Linked DNA regions of Homo sapiens. The protein of the gene in region 2 purifies or fractionates together with the protein of the main gene of each other region. This does not show direct contact. Each region holds a gene or a part of one and is shown on either strand. Other genes may lie near its edges.

The links.
Region 1: the proteins of GATC (region 2) and TNRC6C purify together in Homo sapiens (co-immunoprecipitation; one large-scale study listed by IntAct). This does not show direct contact.

The regions. Positions count from the first base shown.
Region 1 is NC_000017.11:78,091,074-78,094,705, reverse strand, and holds part of TNRC6C (trinucleotide repeat-containing gene 6C protein), read right to left. Parts: intron 3,267-3,632; coding exon 3,099-3,266; intron 1,774-3,098; coding exon 1,582-1,773; intron 1,087-1,581; coding exon 943-1,086; intron 1-942. UniProt on the Homo sapiens protein: Plays a role in RNA-mediated gene silencing by micro-RNAs (miRNAs). Required for miRNA-dependent translational repression of complementary mRNAs by argonaute family proteins.
Region 2 is NC_000012.12:120,456,441-120,460,072, reverse strand, and holds part of GATC (glutamyl-tRNA(Gln) amidotransferase subunit C, mitochondrial), read right to left. Parts: intron 2,998-3,632; coding exon 2,894-2,997; intron 167-2,893; coding exon 114-166; 3' UTR 1-113. UniProt on the Homo sapiens protein: Allows the formation of correctly charged Gln-tRNA(Gln) through the transamidation of misacylated Glu-tRNA(Gln) in the mitochondria. The reaction takes place in the presence of glutamine and ATP through an activated gamma-phospho-Glu-tRNA(Gln).

The DNA of each region.
Region 1 (3,632 bases), on a different chromosome or scaffold from region 2:
CACTTTGGGAGGCCAAAGCAGGCGGATCACTTGAGGTCAGGAGTTCGAGATCAGCCTGGCAAACATGGTGAAACCCCATCTCTACTAAAAATAGAAAAAATTAGCTGGGTGTGGTGGTGCACGCCTGTAGTCCCAGCTAATCGGGAGGCTGAGGCATGAGAATCACTTGAGCCTGCGAGGCGGAGGTTGCAGTGAGCCAAGATCACGCCACTATACTCCAGCCTGGGCAAGAGAGCGAGAATCTGTCTCAAAAAAAAAAAAAAAAGAAACAAAAGAAGCAAACACAAAACACATGGCTCCAATGAGTCATATTTCAAGTGGGAAATTCAATGTTTTGGGAACTATCTAGGTGGCCTTATTAGTGATAGTACCTATGGCAATCTAGCTCTTCCTTCCACAAAATAGCATGCTGTGATAAAACTTTATCAGAGATGGCACTTCTATGATAAGACATTACTTATCAATAAATCCAGCAGCATGGGCGACACCTGAGGTCAGGAGTTCGAGACCAGCCTGGCCAACATGGCAAAACCCTGTCTCTACTAAAAATACAAAAATTAGCTTGGTATGGTGGCACACATGCCTGTAATTCCAGCTACTTGGGAGGCTGAGGCAGGAGAGTCGCTTGAACCCAGAAGGTGGAGATTGCAGAGAGCTGAGATCATGCCACTGCACTCCATCCTGGGCGACAGAGTGAGACTTCATCGCAAAAAAAAAAAAAAAGTAATAATAATAAAAAATCCAGCAGAAACTCAAATTGATTTCCATTTCTCCATAAGCACTACCTGCTGTCTTTTCATGCTGCTTCAGGTGACTAGAAAAGGTGCCCGCCAACTGTGCCTTGTATCATCCCTGCCTCACAGCCCAACCTGTCACCCCTGACATCTCCAAATGGGTCTAGAGAGACCGTCCATGCAGAGGCAGGAAGAGCAGCACCCTCACCTCCACTCTTGAGGAGGTAGCGGTTGACATCCTGGATGGTGGTGTTGATGGTAGGCCCAGTGGGGACACTGCCAGGAGTGACGTCAGGGTCATTCTCAGGGTCAATATTCTGCAGTCCTTTCCATGGAACTCCCGGATGGAATTCTGTTTAAGAAACCAAAATGAGAAGCCACAGATCAGAACACCGGCACATTGATTCACGAAATTTTAAAAGATGTTTTGTCCTGTTTGTAGAAATTTTTATAATCTGCTAATTAAATTAGAGGTACACCTTATACTCTCTTTCATTAAAGCAATCAATCCTTTGGAACAAACTAGAACCAGGTATCACAGCTATCATATTAAGCTAGTTTTCACACAGGGTTGGAATAGTTTTACCGGATAGTGTGCAGTGTGCTTCCTCCCTGCCACCCCTTCCACTCCTCATGCTGAACTAAGGGTTTACAGAAAAATGCCTGATGCTAACCATACCCAAAATTGATCTGACAAATGGATTTCCAAGGAAAATGCCAAAGCTCTGGGCTTAACGCTTCCAGATCCTTAGCTCAGATTCTGGGTCCTCTCAGCCTAATCACTCTCTGCAGGCTTGGAGCACATTCTGACCTGCTGCTGTTGCACAGAAGTGTTGCATGGTCTTACCTGGGGGCCAGTTGATGCTAGAGCCATTTGAGATTTTATCACTGTCAGATTTGGCACGTGACCAGCTATGGGGAACAGCTACGGGAGGACTGGCTGGTGACTCACTGTTCTGGATTAAATCGTACCGGCCATAGGAGTCATCAATGGAGGACTTACCTGGAGGCCCAATGCTTAGACCTCCAGGGATAGCACCTATGGGGACAATAGGAAACAAAGAAGCGAGTGAATACTCTCCAGTTGAGAGACACCAGAAGATACCCTAAGCCTCCCTATGTACCTTCTGTTCTAGGTCCAATGCCTTGCCCTATTCAGTTACATGAATTGTAAGACTTGGTCTGTCTAGGATTCTGTAAGAATCAATGACTTTATTTATTTATTTATTTATTTTTTTGAGACAACTTCTCACTCTGTGGCCCAGGCTGGAGTGTAGTGATGTGATCAGGGCTCAACCTCCTGGGCTCAAGCGATCCTCCCACCTTGGCCTCCCAAGTAGCTGGAACTACAGGTGTGAGCCACCATGCCTGGCCAGTGACTGTTTCAGTTAGCTACAATTTCAGCCCTGAAAGATTGAAACCCTTGAAGAACAATTTCAGTTTGTCCAGTAAGAAGTCTTTACAAAATACATATCCATACCATGGGAAGCTGCCCTTAATAAATCTTTTTGGGGACAACTTATGAGTCTTTGTGATTAGCTATCAAATTTGCTGTTATCTCTTCCCTCCTTTTAGTCTGAAACCCTCACTACGGAAGAACACAGTGGATGTTAAAAATTCATACAGAACCAAACCAACCAGCTACAGGCAGCAGAGCCCTCCTGCTAAGAAAGGTGCCAGCAGTGTGTGATGATTTTCCGTAAGTTAACCATGAGACATAGTTTCCTTTTTCTTTTTAGAATGCTTCCTATCAAGAGAGAACTACGTAACCTACTGAATTTCCTTTGCTGTTTATTCTACCAGGAAGTTCAGAGTTAAATTTAATGCTTGAGAGTGAGATTACCTCCTATGGTTATCATTTTTGCTTCCACCTTACTCGTGTGTCCATCAGTAAAGAGTTCCCGATGGGGACACCAGTTTGGAGTAAGACAGACTGCTTGGATGGAGGGGAATAACCAACAGAAATGCACCCTAGTATTTACAGCTGCAGTTCCCATACATACTGTATATTTGATTTTCTATTTATGTTTTACCATTTTATTGAAAACATTTCAGCAGACTCAAGTTTTTGTTGATGAATATAGATACATAAAAAAAGTACACAGGCTATGACCTAGATTCTTTGCTGCTCTGGGGTTTTCAAATTATTTCTAAGTTTGTAGCTAAGATCTAATGGTTGGGTTTTAAGAAGTTTGATCAGTGACTAGCTGAGATCTTATATGCACTATAATGGAATGGGTTATTTTAAATCCAACTTTCAGTGCTCAATTCTTAGAAAAGTATAGAATGGCCATGCTATACAACAGGACGATCGATTAATAAGCCAGCAGTGATCCCACCACAGGCATCCTAGCTCAGACGTACCATGCTTGCTAGGGTTCTGCTCCAGGGGGGAAGCGGCACTGGGCAAGTTATCCATGGAGTTGGGGTGCGTCCACTGGGGGAGGCGTGACTGGGACTGGGATGGGTCCTTCACCGACAAGCCACCGGTCATGTCCATGCTGTTGACATTCATGTTTGGGTTCAGTCCAGCTAAAGAGAGAGATGCGGTTAGGATTCGCCTGCTCCTCTAAATGACTTCATTCTAAAGCTCTCCTATAGAAGCTATTTCAGTCTTCGCTTACAGCAAATTTTTTTTTTTTTTTGAGACGGAGTCTTGCTCTTGATGCCCAGGCTGGAGTGCAATGGCACAATCTTGGCTCATTGCAACCTCCGCCTCCCAGGTTCAAGCGATTCTCCTGCCTCAGCCTCCCAAGTAGCTGGGATACAGCAAAATATTTTAACTATAACTTTTAGTGCTGGTGAAAAAATACTACTTATCGTCATAACAACATGTATTTCTAGGAATATTATTCCTAAATTAAGGTGAAAATGTGAATAGTCTTTGATTAAGTAAGG
Region 2 (3,632 bases):
ATCCATTTTTTCAGGGGACTGAAAAAAGCAGGAACATTAGTATTCACAGTAAAAAAATACTGTCATTATGCTTCCACATGTTCACAGAGTACCCCCTTTCCAGAATGAGCTACTCAGCTGTGTGGGAATGGCTCTTGTTCATCCAGCTTTGGCAAAGAGATATTACCTGTTTGAAAATAACAAAAGAGAATTTTTGTTTGTTTGTTTGTTTTTGTTTTGAGACAGAGTCTCGCTGTTGCCCAGGCTGGAGTGCAGTGGCGCAATCTCAGCTCACTGCAGGCTCCGCCCCCTGGGGTTCACGCCATTCTCCTGCCTCGGCCTCCAGAGTAGCTGGGACTACAGGCGCCCGCCACCTCTCCCGGCTAATTTTTTGTATTTTTAATAGAGACGGGGTTTCACCGTGTTAGCCAGGATGGTCTCGATCTCCTGACCTCGTGATCCGCCCTCCTCGGCCTCCCAAAGTGCTAGGATTACAGGCATGAGCCACCGCGCCCGGCCACAACAGAGAATGTTATAGCTGAGCCTGCCGCCCAGCTGGCTCTACTGAGCTAACTGATCACTACTTTCTCATGGAAAATATGGAAGTAATGTAGCTACTGTCCTGTTTTCCTAACTGGGAGTATCTGAAAGAATCAGTTCTAAGTGTAGCCAAATTCACCTTTTTCAGTAAGGAGTATACAGGTTGATTAGCCACTAATATGCAGATAGGACTAGAAGGAAACACTGACCATGAACTCAGGTGGTCCCAAAAAGCAAAGTCTGAAGTAAGGTTCTGTGTGGGAGATAGCATGTCTGATCAAAAGATATTTCTGCTGGAGCCACAACTATCAGGCTCTGAGATGGAGAGTCTCCTTTCTCTCCACAGTTAACAGGTGGTTTAGTGGATTGGAGGCATGATTAAGAGTTTAGCTCACGGCCGGGTGCGGTGGCTCACACCTGTAATCCCAGCACTCTGGGAGGCCGAAGCGGACGATCACGAGGTCAGGAGAGAGAGACCATCCTGGCTAACACGGTGAAACCCCGTCTCTACTAAAAATACAAAAAATTAGCCAGGCGTTGTGGTGGGCGCCTGTAGTCCTAGCTACTTGGGAGGCTAAGGCAGGAGAATGGCATGAACGTGGAAGGTGGAGCTTGCAGTGAGCCGAGATCGCGCCACTGCACTCCAGCTTGGGCAACAGAGCAAGACTCCGTCTCAAAACAAACAAAAAGTTTAGCTCACAAAATTTCTAGCTTTCTTTCCCATCCTTGCATCAACCAGAGCCTGCCTTTAACTGGCACCTTAAGCTGACCAGGGCCAATGTCTTCTGTGGAGTCTGCTCAGAATGATTCTCCCTCAGGATATCCTGAACTGGAAGTTGGCACTTAGCAGGCTACCTGATTGCTTTTGGCTAGTCCCACTCCCAGATGCCCAGAGGGGTAGTACAACAGCTCCAAGTATTCACCTACCTGCAGAGGAGATAAAAACAGTCAACCTATCCAAGGTTCTGGATTTTACTGTCAGCCCAGAGTAATTTTAAAGCTTCTATTTAAAATATTTACAGTAGGTAGATGATGCAAATCTCTATACCAGCTGTTGTAAACTGATGGCTCACAGACTGCACCTGGCTTGCAGATGTGTTTTATTTGGCTTGGATGGTATTTTGTTTTTTAAATTTTGAATTGGTTGCTAGCACTTAAAATTTAAGAAATATCGGCGGGGTGCAGTGGCTCACCCCTGTAATCCCAGCACTTTGGGAGGCTGAGGCGGGTAGATCACCAGTTCAAGACTAGCCTGGCCAAGATGGTGAAATCCTGCCTCTACTAAAAATACAAAAATATTAGCCAGGCATGGTGGCAGGCACCTGTAATCCCAGCTACTCGGCAGGCTGAGGCAGAGAATTGCTTGAACCCGGGAGGCAGAGGTTGCAGTGAGTCAAGATTGCACTCCAGCCTGGGTGACCGAGCGAGACTCCATCTCAAAAAAAAAAAAAAAAATTTAAGAAATATCACACAAAATGTCAGGTATCCAGGTTCTCTGGAGAAATGGGTTTACATTCCTGCCTGGCAACACTGATAGGGTAGCAGCCATGCTCCTCCTGCTTTGAATGGGCACAGACTGAGGGCAGACCCTAATGGCGTTTGAATCATGTCATAGGCAAAGATGTGACAGAAACATCTGGGCTAAGGCCACACATGATAACTAAGTTGTCACAATAAGATTCGTTTTGGGAGGCCGAGGTGGGTGGATCACCTGAGGTCGGGAGATCGAGACCATCCTGGCTAACACAGTGAAACCCTGTCTCTACTAAAAATACAAAAAATTAGCCAGGCGTGCTGGTGCATGCCTGTAATCCCAGCTACTGGGGAGCCTGAGCAGGAGAATCGCTTGAACCCGGGAGGTGGAGGTTGCGGTGAGCCGAGATTGCACCATTGCACTCCAGCCTGGGCAACAAGAGCGAAACTCCGTCTCAAAAAAAAAAAAAAAAAAAAAGGATTCTTTTAGGAAAGGACTGGTTTTTTTGTGGTACCCAGCCCAAAGCTAGACCTAACAAATATTTATTCATGGTATGAATACTAGAAAGTTGGAGTCGATTACAGGATCTGGCAGGGTCTTAACTGTGGCTTTGAGAAACACTGAATGCCAGCTGCCCCTTTAGGGAGATCTTGAGCTCCAGATTTCCACCTACTTTAAACCTCCCGCATGCCCCCAATCCTGTTTTGCTTGTTCCTGTTACTAACTGCCCCCTAGAGGTGAGTATGACCCTGGACCCTACTGCCACCTTAATGCCACCATCTGTATGCACTTCATCCTTTTCAAAGTGCCTTCACATAGCATCTTTGGTCCTCATGCTTCCTGCTTCATTCCTAAGGTTACTGTGAGACTATCTGTTAAACCATTCTGGGCAGCACGTACCTGGGGGGGCCACAAAGTACTCCTCCACGACGCGATGGGAGTTTTGTAGTAATTCATCAGCACAGTTGCCTTCTACCACATTGTCGGATCTCAGGTATAGACATCTACAAAACCCAGAAGCTCAAGGTTACCCTCTCAGAGAAGGGGGCTTTTAGGGGATGATGGAGAGGGGCAAGAAGGAGAGAACAAGGAAGCAGTATATTCTTGAGTTAATGGGCACTGTTCAAAGATAGAGAAGCTGGGATCAACAGTAGACCAAATAACAGCCTACAGTTTATAGATTGACCGAACAACCCTGAGAAGTAAGTGCTAATTACTTCTCTGGATTGATTTAACAAATAGTTTTTGATGATTATATGGGCAACTGTCTTTTGGTGGGGACAGGTAAAAGCAATTACAAAAACAATATTTTAAATCTAACAGAGGTTAGTACAGCCTGCCAAAGGATAGAAAGGGTACCTAGTCCAGCCTGCGTGAGTAGCACATCCTCAGAATAGCTGATGTCACTGTTCAAGGATGGGCAAGAAATAGCTGGATTGGGGGATGAAGGTATGAGAAATGGACTTCCTGGCACGTATAGCAGCATGAATCCCAAAGCAATAGAGCCGAGAGCTCAGAGATTCAGAGAAGGACAGGGAGTTTAGCAGGCTGGGGTGTGGTCTGCCGGGGTGGAAGATGAAGCTGGAAAGCTAAGCAGAGATGGGGAAGCAAACTTGCCACAAGAGTAACTTAAGGATGT